2 linked regions of the Homo sapiens genome follow. The protein of the gene in region 1 interacts with the protein of each later gene in a biochemical or structural test. Each region holds a gene or a part of one and is shown on either strand. Other genes may lie near its edges.

Evidence for each region. The genes of interacting proteins can lie anywhere in the genome.
Region 2: the proteins of COPS4 (region 1) and RAB18 form a complex in vitro, tested with the Homo sapiens proteins (one study listed by BioGRID).

What each region holds. Positions count from the first base shown.
Region 1 is NC_000004.12:83,038,175-83,045,201, forward strand, and holds part of COPS4 (COP9 signalosome complex subunit 4), read left to right. Parts: intron 1-7,027. UniProt on the Homo sapiens protein: Component of the COP9 signalosome complex (CSN), a complex involved in various cellular and developmental processes.
Region 2 is NC_000010.11:27,528,302-27,535,328, reverse strand, and holds part of RAB18 (ras-related protein Rab-18), read right to left. Parts: intron 3,801-7,027; coding exon of another isoform or gene 3,714-3,800; intron 2,823-3,713; coding exon 2,750-2,822; intron 1,595-2,749; coding exon 1,476-1,594; intron 1,402-1,475; coding exon 1,335-1,401; intron 1-1,334. UniProt on the Homo sapiens protein: The small GTPases Rab are key regulators of intracellular membrane trafficking, from the formation of transport vesicles to their fusion with membranes.

The DNA of each region.
Region 1 (7,027 bases):
TTGTTGTCCCAAACACAACAGTTTTAGTGGTTTTCATCTCTAGAGTGAAAGTCAATAACATCTAGAGTTTACTGTGCGAAGCACAACATTACTTACATTTAAAAATCCTTAACAAGTAGGAGTAGGTGATAGTAGTGATATTATTTACATTATAATAAGAGAAAACCAAAGTACAGAGTTGAAATACCTTGCTCTGAGGTCACACAGCTAGTGGTGAAGCTAGAAGACAGTCCATATCTGCTTGCCTATGAGCCCTTAACTCTAAACAAACACATCTACCTTTTTGGCCTTATTTTCACAAAAAAAAATTGACTACACTTCAGATAGTGATTATTTTTGCCTAGAATGCCTGTCTTCCTACTGTTATTAAATTGAAATACTTAGAATGTTTAAAGATCAACCCCATCCAATGATTTCTCTCTCCTAAAAATTATATTAGCACTTACCTGTTTTTTTTGTTTGTTTGTTTGTTTTGTTTTGTTTTGAGATGGAGTTTCACTCTTGTTGCCTAGGCTGGAGTGCAGTGGCGCGATCTCGGCTCACTGCAACCTCTGCCTCCCGGGTTCAACCGATTCTTCTGCCTCAGCCTCCCAAGTAGCTGGGACTACAGGTGCATGCCACCACACCCGACTACTTTTTTTTGTATTTTTAGTAGAGACAGGGTTTCACCATGTTGGCCAGGATGGTCTCGATCTTTTGACCTTGTGATCCACCTGCCTTGGCCTCCCAAAGTGCTGGGATTACAGGCGTGAGCCACCGCGCCTGGCCAGCACTTACCTGTTTTTAAGATTTTGTCTTTAATTTTGTGTAGCTTCATTATGATATGTCTGTGGATTTGTTTTTACTTTTCTATGTCAGTTACCCTTTGCTGTGAAATAAACCCCAAAACTTAGGGCTTAAAACAACAGTCACTTATTTAGCTTATAATTCTGTAGGTTGGTAGTTTGGATTGGGCCCAGCTGTATGGTTCTTTTCTGCTCCACGTGGTCTTGGTTCCACATGGGCTCCCATGTGGGTCTATAGTTAGCTGCCAGCCAGGCCAGGTAGGCAGCTCTGCTTCTGTGGATTGGCTGGCTTGTTGGCTGGGGCAATATAGTTGACTGGGCTACATATCTCATTAGCCAGTATGTTAGTCTGAGCCTGTTCATGTGACAGCAGCAGGGTTCCAAAAGACAAACACATACAAGGCCTCTCGAGGTCTGGGCTCAGAACTAGCACTTCATTTCTACCACGTTTTATTGGTTAACCCCAGATTCAAGGGGTAGGGAAATAAACTCTACCTTTTGATATGAAGAGCTACAAAGTTGTATTGTAAAGGGACATGGGTACTGGGAGTGAAATTATATTGTGGCCGTTTTTTGTAAGCACTCTGTCACATTATCCTGGTTAAGCTTCACTGGGTTTCCTGAATCAATGGATTAAATCATTTCATCAGTCTTGAGATGTCTTCAGTTATATCTCTTTATTTTATTTTAGAGACAGGGTCTTGCTCTGTTGCCCTGGCTTGAGTGCAGTAGAGAGATCATGGCTTACTACAGCCTTAACATGCTTGGCTCAAGCAATCTTCTCGCCTTAGCCTCCTGAGTAGCTGGGACTATAGGCACGTGACACCATGCCTGGCTAATTTAAAAACATTTTTTTTGGTACAGATGGGGTCTCCCTATGTTGCCCAGGCAGGTCTCGAACTCCTGGGCTCAAGGGATTCTCCTGCCTCGGCCTACAAAAGTGTTGGGATTACAGGTGTGGGCTACTGTGCTTGGCCTGTATCTCTTTAAATGTTGCCTCTGCCCCATTCTGTTTCTCCTCTAGGCTCCGGTGAAATCCCTGTCAGGCCCACTGACTATAACCTCTAGGCCTCTTACTCTGTCTTTTCCATTTCAATGCTTTATTCTGGATTAGTTCTTCAGGCCTACCTTCTAGTTTATCACTTCTTCAACTGTGTTTAATCTGCCGTTAAGTACTCCATTGAGTTTCTAAGTTGGGTTGTATTTTTTAGCTCTGTAATTTCTGGTGGTTCTTTTTTCCAATGATACTTTTTATGGCTCCTGGTCTGTTGCTGAAACTTTAAAGCTTGTCTTTATCCCCATGAACATTGTAAGCATAATTGTATCATGCTCTTTCTGATAACTCCAGTCAGTATTTGACGTTTTGGTTGTTGCGATTGTCTGTTGCTTTTGTTGATTCTAGAGAGAAATTTCATTACCTGAGGGTGCTAACAGTGTATAATCAAGGCTTCAGAATTTTTTTGGTTTACCTGGGTGGTCTTGGGATAGAATTTGTAACCTTACTTCCAAAGTGTGTGTCTCCTCCTTTGGCAGAATATGGAACTTCCATTCCCATTTGTGCAGCTCTATTAGTCTGCCAGAAATGGCAGCTTGCTTCTCAGTGCTTCCAGCAGATTCGCAGTGAGCCCACCTTCTCCTCCCTACAAGAAGTGCCACTCTACCTCTCAGCCATCTTTCCACAGTCAGCAAATGCCTTTAGACAGAATATATGGTTTATCTTATTTTCCTCATTTTACCTTTCTTGTTAGGATTTTATGCAATTACATTTTTTTTTTCATTTCTTTCAGCTTTTTATGTTGGCTTTTTTTTTTTTTTTTTTGAGGGAGGGTTGGTCCAGTCGTTTAGTTCACCATTACTGTAAGTGGAAGATCTGTTAATACCTACCTTTACCACCCATTGTGATCTTAAATGATGACTGTGGTACATTTTCATGCTTTATTTATCTCCAGATTCCTTTCAAGTGCCAAGAAATTAAGAATCAACATACTGAATTTGGTTCATATACATTAAAGATGCTCAATTCACTGATGATAAATGGATAGGAGAGATGTATGATGCCTTAGTAATAAAACTTATTTTCCTCCATAAGTTTTTTTTTTTTGTTTTTTGTTTTTTTTTTTTGAGATGGAATCTCACTCTGTCGCCCAGGCTGGAGTGCAGTGGCATGATCTTGGCTTACTGCAATCTCCACCTCCCGGGTTCAAGCGATTCTTCTGGCTCAGCCTCCTGAGTAGCTGGGACTACAGGCACACGCCACCACGCCCGGCTAATTTTTGTGTTTTTAGTAGAGACAGAGTTTCACCATGTTGGGCAGGCTGGTCTTGAACTCCTGACCTCAGGTGATCCGCCCACCTCAGCCTCCCAAAGTGCTGAGATTACAGGCGTGAGCCACTGCGCCCGGCCAAATTTTTTTAAGGAAGAAAATATTTGGCACTTGTCACATTCTCCATATCAGTCACATTTCTCTTTGTATACTGAGTACTCATATAAAAAGCTATTATTATCTACGAAGCCTTATTTGACAAATCTAGTCCATTTTTGTTTTACTCTCACTCTGTCACAGGCTGGAGTACAGTGGCTCACTGCAGCCTCCACCTCCTGGGTTCAAGTGATTTTCCTGCCTCAGCCTCCCGTGTAGCTGGGACTTACAGTTGTGCACCATCACACTCGGCTAATTTTTGTATTTTTAGTAGAGATGGGGTTTCTCCGTGTTGGCCAGGCTGGTCTTGAACTCCTGGCCTCAAGCGATCGTCTTCCTTGGCCTCCCAAAGTGCTGGGATTGCAGGTGTGAGCCACTTCACCTGGCCTTACTCTCTTTTGAGTTAATATATTACCTCTTCATTTATCATATTGCTTATATTGTTCAGTTTTATCATAACTTTTGTTTTTGTATTATTGTAATTTAATACTTTTTTTTTTTTTTGAGATAGAATTTCGCTCTGTCACCCAGGCTGAAGTGCAGCAGCGGGATCTCAGCTCACTGCAACCTCTGCCTCCCAGGTTCAAGTGATTCTCGTGCCTCAGCCTCCCGAGTAGCTGAGATTACAGGCACGTGCCACCACACCTGGCTAATTTTTGTATTTTTAGTAGAGATGAGGTTTCACCATGTTGGCCAGGCTGGTCTCGAACTCTTGACCTCAAGTGATTGGCCCACCTCAGCCTCCCAAAGTGCTGGGATTACAGGCGTGAGCCACCGCACCTGACCATATTGTAATTTAACACTTGACATATTAACTTTTTATTTTTAATCTTCCCCTTTGTCTTCTCAGCCATATGATCTTCAAATACAAAGGTCATTTAAAAACTTTTTAGTATCATACACAGAATCTCATATAGCATCTTAAAATGCCTAAGGACTCAATTAACACCTTGGGGTGATTTTATATGGCAGTATTAAATTTCTGTTTAAGTTCCTGGTTTAAAACAGGTTTGTTAGTCATTTTATGTTATTCTGAAAAAGTAATCTCTGTTGTTAGATACTAGAATTTACATATTAGAGAAGCAAGGGAGCATGTAATGTAGCCACAGTGCTGTACCTCACTTTTTTTAATTAATTAATTTTTTTTTTTTTTTGAGACAAGGTCTTGCTCTGTCCAGGCACACGCCACCACAGCTGGCTAATTTTTGTAATTTTTTTTTATTTTTAAAATTTTTATTTTTGAGATGAGATATCACTCTGTTGCCCAGGTTGGAGTTGCAGTGGCAAGATCTCAGCTCACTGCAACCTCCACCTCCTGGGCTCAGGCAATCCTCCCCCCTCAGCCTCCCAAGTAGCTGGCACCACAGGTGTGTGCCACAATGCCTGGCTAATTTTTTTATATTTTTGGTAGAGATGAGGTTTTACTATGTTGCTCAGACTGGTCTCGAACTCCTGAGATCAAGCCATCTGACTGCCTTGGCCTCCCAAAGTGCTGGGATTACAGGCATGAGCCACCACGCCCAACCAATTTTTGTATTTTTTTTTTTTTTTTGTAGAGATGAGGTTTCACCACATTGCCCAGGCTGGTCTTGAACTCCTGGACTCAAGTGATCTACTTTCTTTGGCCTCCCAAAGTGGTAGGATTACAGGCATGAGCCACTGCGACTGGCCCTCAATTTATTCATTTATAAAATTGGGAGTTTATGTACACAATTTCTAAGGCCTCTATAAGTTATATAATTTGATGAGTATAAAACTTTGATCACTTTTTAGGTTGGTTTATTTTCATTTTTTCTTCCTATTCCCAATACAGATTAGTTGATTGATTATGAAACTATGTGTTAAAACTTAGGTTAGGCCAGGCACAGTGGCTCAAGCCTGTAATCCCAGCACTTGGGGAGGCTGAGTTGGGAGGATTGCTTGAGTCCAGAAGTTGGAGACCAGTTTGGGCAATGTAGTGAGACCCCATCTCTACAAAAAGAAAAGAACAGTTAACCAGGGGTCGTGGCACATGCCTGTAGTCCTAGCTACTCAGGAGGCAGAAGCAGGAGGATTGTTTGAGCCCAGGAATTGGAGGTTACAGTGAGCTATGATCATGTCACTGCACTCTAGCCTGGGCGACAGAGTGAGACCCTGTCTCAAAAAAAAAAAAAAAAAAAAAAAAAAAACCATAACAACCACAAAACAACTTAGGTTAATTAGCAAATTTATATAAGTGAGACACTATTACCTTTGAATATAATGTTGTTAGTATAAAATAATCTAAGAGGATATAAAAGTAAGAGATCTTAGCAATAACCCTTGATTTAATTAAATATGAAAAAAATAAAAAATAACAAACCATTGAATGTATAACTTATCTGAAAGCATGCCCAGGGCCATAAAGTAATTTATCTTTTAAGGACCCTCAAACTTAGCAATATTGAAAATATAATTTTCTAAAAACTTAATATTTCCTTGCTTTCTTAGAATAATTTATTTCTTCTTTTGGAATTTGCTATCTTTTCTATCCGTATATCTGCTTTCTTAAAGTCACTTTGATTCATTGTGGTTTTGAGAAATCAGATAACCAAGGTTGTGAGAATTTTGTATGAGTTGAGAGTCAGTAATGCTGAGTGGTAGCTTGAGGGTGTGCCCTACAAAATAAAAGTCATAAATCTGAATGAGTTCAGGTTCTATTTTTGTATATTTATTTCGTAACTCTATTCTGGATGACTTTCCGAATAATTGCAATGCTATGAGGTTTGTAAAATGTATTTAGTGCTTTTAAAAAATATTACAATTGGCTGGGCGCGGTGGCTCACGCCTGTAATCCCAGCACTGTGGGAGCCCGAGGTGGGCGGATCACCTGAGGTCAGGAGTTCAAGACCAGCCTGGCCAACATGCGGAAACCCCATCTCTACCAAAAATACAAAAATTAGCCGCACTTGGTGGTGCATGCCTGTAGTCCTCGCTACTCTGGAGGCTGAGGCAGGAGAATTGCTTGAACCTGGGAGGCGGAGGTTGCAGTGAGCCGAGATTGCGCCAGTGCACTCCAGCCTGGGTGACAGAGCAAGACTCCATCTCAAAAAAAAAAAAAAAAAAATGATTAAGACAAAAGAGATAAAGATTAGTATAGGCCGGGCACGGTGGCTAACGCCTGTAATCCCAGCACTTTGGGAGGCTGAGGTGGGCGGATCATGAGGTCGGGAGTTTGAGACCAGCCTGACCACATGGTGAAACCCCATCTTTACTAAAAATACAAAAATTAGCCAGGCGTGGTGGCGCATGCCTGTAATCCCAGCTACTCAGGAGGCTGAGGCAGGAGAATCGCTTGAACCTGGGAGGTGGAGGTTGCAGTGAGCCAAGATTGCGCCACTGCACTCCAGCCTGGGTGACAGAGCGAGACTCCGTCTTCAAAAACAACAACAACAACAACAACAAAAGAATAGTATAACACTCATATACTAACCACTCGTTAAGAAATAAAACATTACTAATACCGTTGAATATTTGAGTGCTTATGATGTGCCAAGAATTGAGATAATTGTCTACATAGCAGAGAACAAAACACAAGAATTCCTGTCCTCGTGGAGCTTGTGTGGTCACAGATATTAGGTAGAATAGTTATTAGATCTGAATGCAAATAAAGAATAAATAGGTACTGTCTGACAGCATAAATGGTATTCTATCAGTGCATTTGGCTTGGCGAAGTTTATTTTGTACAGACTAAGACATTCAGTCTTTAATGTTTGGTTTCGTTGCCTGGTCAACATTATCCTATTGCTGGTGACCCTACATACATTACGTCTGTAAGAGGAAAAGATTCAGGTCACCTCAAATA
Region 2 (7,027 bases), on another chromosome or scaffold:
AAGAAGAATAGTCTTGGGCCACAAATAACATACAATAACACTAATGATAGCTGGAACTTAAAAAAAAGCACAAAATCTCATAATGTTTTAAGGAAGTTTACAAATTTGTGTTGGGCCACATTCAAAGCCATCCTGGGCCACATGCAGCCCATGAGTTGGACAAGCTTGCTCTAGATCCTCACCTGAGGGATTTCTGCTCAAATGGGACAGCCTCTAAGAACTTTCCCTAAGCAGTCCCCACTCCAGTCATTCTCTCTCCCCTTATAATGTTTTATTTCCTTCATAGCACTACTTACTTATTTAAGTCTGTCTCCCTTACTAGAATGTAAGCTCCATGTGGGCAGAAAGTTTGTCAGTTTTGTCCACTGTTACATCTTGAGTGTTCAATAAATATTGGGTAAACTAATGTATGGAAATGAGGGACATACAGCAAGTAAAAGTACTCGATTCCTTTCTGAAAATCTCAATACTTTCCACTAATTCCATTCTGTTTTTATCTATATATGAAGTCCTCTCAACTTCATTTGCAGATTCCTGGTAGCTTCTAACGCCATGGAATGGTTAAATCCGTAATTCCTAAAGCTGGCTTCACATCAGAATCAACTAGAGTGCTTTCAATAAACTGCCTTTCAAACCTGTAATAAGGCACAGGGCCCAGGTGATTCTGACATAGCTCATCCAATTTTCTAGATGAGGGGTTGGCAAACTCTTTCTGTAAAGGGCCAGATAGAAAATATTTAGGCTTCGTGGGCCGTATGGCCTCTGTTGTAACTACTAAACTCTGCCATATGGCACAAAAGCAGCTACAGACAACATGTAAACACATGGACATGGCTGTGTACCAATACAAATGGTGGGGCCAGATTTGGACCAGGCTGTAGTTTGGCAACTCTTGCTGGACCATGTTTCTCAAAAATTAATGTGCATACAAACCATATGAAGAGCTTGTTAAAATGCAGATTCTAATTCAGAAAATCTGGGGTAGGGCCTGAGCTGAAGCACTGCTAACAAGCTCCCAGGTGGTGCTGATGGTATCAGCATATGGACCAGCAAGGCATAACTTTAGCACTGGGTGCCAAACTTTACTGAATGCCACTATATCCTGTGAGGAATGATTTGACTGTTTTTTAATATGATTTCACATAATATGATCATACATTTTACAGGAAGAAGAATAAAGAACCTTGTTATATAGTTAGATTTTGTAACACAAGGCAACTAGGAACAATACTCTAAACACATTTTATGGTTCATAAAGAAATAAACTTGGCAAAAACTCCATTCAAAAATTCCTCATTAATAATGAAAGGACAGATATTCATTCACACACCTACCTATAAATAACATGGAATGCTTTCGTGCAAATTTCAGGCCTTCATTTCTATCGACTTCACGATTTTCCTAAAATATAAATGCAATGATTAAGAAAGGCTACCAAAATATAGAACCAAAATGCCAAGTGTCTGCCTTCTTACCTTATCGATTTTATTTCCAACTAGCATGTTTACTATGTCATTTCTTGTACAGTATGTTTCCAATTCATTTAACCAATTATCCAGTTTAACAAATGTATCTCTTCTTGTGACATCATAAACTGAAATAAAAGGAGTCATTTGTTAAATAAGCATTAAAGAAAGAAGCAATGGCGTATTTCTGATATGTAGCTAGGAGTTAGCATTACTAAGCAATATAGACAAGTCTTTTTTTTATTGTCTTCAACGATTAATATTGAGTGTCTACTGATCCAAATGGAAGAAACAAGTGTTTTTTTTTTAAAGCATACACATTTCAATCCTATTAACATATACTGTCACAGAAATGAAATTATATCCTGTGTAATAAGTGAAAACACATTTAATACCCATTAAAGCAAAACAACAGCTATTCCCATTCATAATGATGAATGAGGTCTATCCAAAAACCAGAGTGTTTAGATTCAAATCTGTGGCAAAATATTAAAAAAAAAATACATGAATGTAAACATCTATGACCCCATTAATTTGTTTATTACAAGAACCAAAATTTACAGCTTTGAAAAAATTGTAGTACAGTTAGTAGATGGGTTCCTGGTGGTCTTCCTGTTATCACTTTCATCTTATGTCATTCTGCATTATAACAAAAACCTTATTAAAGTGTTTTATAAACTCAAGAGATGCTGAACCAAAAGGCTGTCACTACCAAGCCATAATATTTAAAAAAAGAGAATTCTACCTATTAATACAATTGATCAATATTCATTTTAAACAGTTTCCCAGGAATATCAAGAACAAGCACTTTTCAACAAATTACACTGAGAATCCACATCTGGTTTCTAAATTTTGTTTGATTATAAATCAATAGTGTTAAGTGCTTTGTGATATTTTTAGGACTAATAAAGCAGATTCTACTAATCAACAAATACTTTTCGTCCTTTATAAACTACAGCAAATATTAATATGCTGATAACAGAAGCCCAGTTTCTGTAATACTCCAAGACAGTCCAACATATGCTGATTAATCCTCAATTACGTTCTCATTGACATGTGTTTTCAAACCAAATAAATTAGCCTTGTCTATTTTTTAAGTGCTAGACAAGACTAAAATCAAAAGTTTTAATATTCATTAATATTACATGAAGTTAATACAACTACAAGTTACATAAAAGTAGCTCTAACGAGAAGTAAAACAAAGACATATTAACTTTCACAGACTAGGACAATCAGAAACTCCAATAAATATTTTTAAATAGTACATTAAAGTAAACACTTACCTAATATAACACCCTGTGCACCTCTATAATAGCTGGGAGTTAATGTTCTAAACCTCTCTTGACCAGCAGTATCCTAAAAATGATCATTATTATTAAATTAAACAAAGTATAAATAGACCTTCAATATACTAGTTTAAGAGTAGAAAGTCAAACAGCATTACTAAAAATAGTATTAATGCATGAGCTCATTAAAAAACTGGAACTTAAATAAGATGTGTTCGCTTACTGACAAGTGTCACAAAATAAAATTATTTATAAATACTGATCTCTAGAAAAATGAAACTATGTAAAGGTTTTCTGCTGTTTTGAATTTAAGACTTTTATCATACATGAAATGAAACCCATGGTTCTAAACTCCAGCTGCACAATGAAATTTTCTGGGAATCTTGAGTCTAGCTTCCAAAAAATTTCTGCTTAATTGGTCTAAGGTAATGACAGGAATTTTTTTTTTTTTAAATCTTACCAGGTGCTTTTAATGTAGAATCAAGGCTGAGAACCACTGATTTGAAGAAAATTATGGGATGTCTTACTTTAGGTAACAGATTTTTAGGTTGGGCTCTTTTAAGTGTTTTCTATGTATCTCCTTTTGAGAAAATGCATATAACCAAGCCATTCTTTATTACATGTTATTTCTGACTCATGTTAGGGTTAGTGAACAATGTACACTAGGTAGAAAATGTAAATTTCATAAAGCAGGGACTCATCTGTTTAATCACCAGTTTAACCATTGTGCTGAGACCAATTCTTGAAAAAAGGCAGTTGCTCAGAATTTGTTGAGAAAAAAAAAAAAGAATGAACCTATTTAACAAGCCTTTACTTCCGGGCCCAATTCCTTCTCTCTCTTGTCTTTCTACCATCCTTGGACTATGGATTCAAGGTACCTAAGATTATACAAAGCAGCTCAGCCCACCACCTGTTTTATTAAATAAAGTTTTATTGAAACACAGCAGGCCTATTTGCTTACGTATTGCCACATGGCCCACTTCAGGATTGGACTATTTCCTATCTGGCTCTTTAAGAAAAAGTTTGCAGTCTGCTGATGCAAAGTAACCTAAAGAAAAGTAAAAGTAAAAACATGTATCAAACCTCAACTTAGCTACCAGTCCCACTGCTGTAAATGAGGGTTTGTTATGGGACAAGCAGAAGCTCCCCCAGATATAAAAATGTTAGAATAACCTGTAAGAGGTTTATAAGATTGGAGAAGAATTCAAACCAGGGGCGTGAGGGGCTTCAGCAAGACAGTAGGGAGGATCTGCAGTCATTTATAACCCCAGAAGAGAAACTTAAGAGGAAAGTAACGTTTCAATGTAAACCACTTTGAACATTCACCACTCTTCCACAGATACACTTACATAAATTTGAAAGCCTTTCCTTCCAGATCCTTACCACCACAGAAACTAATCCCCACCCTGCCATGCTTAAGTGAAGAATTAACAGATTTAAAGTAAATGTTCTGAACAGATAAATTTATAAAATAAATAATTTTTCTCTTTACAAAAATTCTCTCTGCCTCTAAGTTTCTTACAAAACCTGCCTTGGATTTTAAAATTATTCAATTTGCATATTTACTCACCTTTTCAAGAACAATAATATAAATTAAAAGCTGTTTAAAGCAAAGTGAACTTGCTATATAAAGCAGATTATAACTTTGATAACATGAGACAAGTCAATATTGTAGTCCATTAATCATTAATGAAACGGTATATGGATGCCCAGTGATCTTTTTTGATCACTATGCTCAAGTAATCAAAACCCAAATTTGCAGGGAAAAAAAAAGTAATCAACTAGAAGCCAAAAGATGTAACTACTATGCATATCATAGTAAAATGATTACTATGTGTATCAGTAAAAGTGTCACCACTTTTAGGAAGCAATTGGTAATATATATAATAAGAAACTAGAAATGCTCTTCATAGCCTTGTACTAGTACCTATTTCAGACAATCTGATTCATACTCAATAAAAAATGTATATTTTTAAATGACAAATCATTATGAGAACGTATCCTAGCTATCTGCTTACATGCAAAAAATGACAAATTAGTAATATTCAAATTATTCAGTATCCAGATACATTATAACTTTGAGAACTGCACCATGTTAAGCATTTAACTTTTAGTAGTACAGACTATCTGTTTTAGAGAGAAAGAAAAAAAAAAAAGAAGGAAAAGCCATTACTGAAAAGACAAGCCTTGGATTTGGAACAGTGAATTACTGAATTTGGAAATTTAAGAAGCAGCTATTTTTCTATACAGTGAATTAGTGAATTTGGAAATTTAAGAAGCAGCTATTTTTCCATACATGGAACACTGTTCTATATTCATAACAAATAGTTTGAGGCAAGGACCAAGTATGAAATATTTTAGCCCCAAGACTTTTTGATAACAGGAAGAAAGTTTATTCTATTTGCATAAGGAAACTGTATCCATAACTTCCAGAGCTGGCAGAAAAACAAGTGAACATGAACTTTGTTCTCTCTGGTCTTCATTGAGATCAACTTCAAAAACTGCCTTAATGAAACACAACATAAAAATCAGAACTGCAATTCCAGTTAAAATATCCATAAATCCTGATGTTTTAAAAGTAAAAACCATAGCAAGAAAGTTTTAATGTTGAAATATTACACTTGACTTTGAAACTTTGCTTGTGAATATTTATTAATAATTAGGCCAGATGTTTAGAGGCTTGCCATTTTTGGATTCACTTACAAAAGTGTTTAAATAGGTGTTATAATTTAGGGGGTGGAGGGAACCATGTGCAATAGCATCGCATCAGGATTTATAGTAACTATAAAGTGTATATGCTTAAATAGAAGTTAGATTGTTGCTTGTGTTTGTTTTCAAAACAGGAATATGTGGTAGGTATAATAACATCTTTGTAAGATAAATGAAGCACAGCTTTTTGTCTCTATCCTGTAGTTTTATTTTCTGATGGGGGAAGGAGAGAAGAAATTACTGAAAGATATATAGATAAACTCAGGGCTAGGAAAGATCTAGAAAGGCTTAATAATAGATGTAGGGAGTGAAAGTGAAGCAAGGACATAGGAAAAGGCAGTAGAAGAAAACAAGGTCATGATGAGTATGCACTTTCAGGAGGTAGGAGGGGCAGGGCTATGCTTAATTATTCTATTTCATCCTAGAAGAAGCTTCCAAGTAGGAGAGAAACTCATTTTATAAATAAAACTATAGAAGAATTAGGCAACTATGGATTCATATATTTCTAATACAGAGGAAACGCCTTCCTAAATACGTTACACCCAAATGCCATGATGAAAATAGCTGATCCAACCATATAAATATTAAAACCTTGAAATGACAAGAACACCCTTTACCTCCTCTTCACCTCCCCATCCCCATATTCATCCTTAACAATATTGGAAGGTAAATGACAAACTGGAAAAAAAAATCTGTAGCATATGGCAGTATTACACACACACACAAGAACACAAACATATATTCAACTGATACATGATTTTAAAGGCAAATGATAGCTTAGAAAATTGTACCACATGACAAAGAGCTAATAATTTTATTATATAAAGACTTTAATGAAGAAAAAGATGAATGCTAACGTATAAAATGGGTAAAATATGTAAAAAGAAAACTTATTTTTTAAAATGATCAATAAACAGGCAAAAATCTCTTATCAAAAGAAATGCAAATATAAGTAAAACAGCAACACTCAGAGGCAAAAACAGAAAGAATGATAACAGTAGAGATAAGGATGTGGCAGAATGAATATGAATACAATTGGTGGGAGTATAAACTGAAAAAAAAGGCTTTTTGGTGTACATTAATGTGAAGACTTCATATTCATTTCTACTTCCAGCTACACATTCTAAAGTAACTGGACAAGTACACACAGACGTATAAATCAGGATGCTCAAAGAGCTGTAATCTTTGTGAAAAGCTGGCAAAAATGTAAGTATCTCTCACTGAAGGCTGACTAAAGTACAGCTATGAAACGGAATACTAGCTGGCCATCTAAACGGATACAGCACATACTATGAGTGGGGGTGAGGTGGTAGGAAAGGAGGACAAACAGGTTTAAAAATGTAAGATATAATATAATCCCTTTGTTTTGGAAAACTCACATACTGGTATGTATAGTGGTATGTATACATATCCCTTGATATTTTAAAGAATGCTCACTAAAATGTATTCAGTGGTATACTTTTATAGATGTTCTTCTCTGCTCTTCTTATTGTCTCAATTATCCCTTTTAGAATGACCCTGTATTATTCTTACAGCCAGGGGGAAAACCTCTCTTCTTTAAAAAAT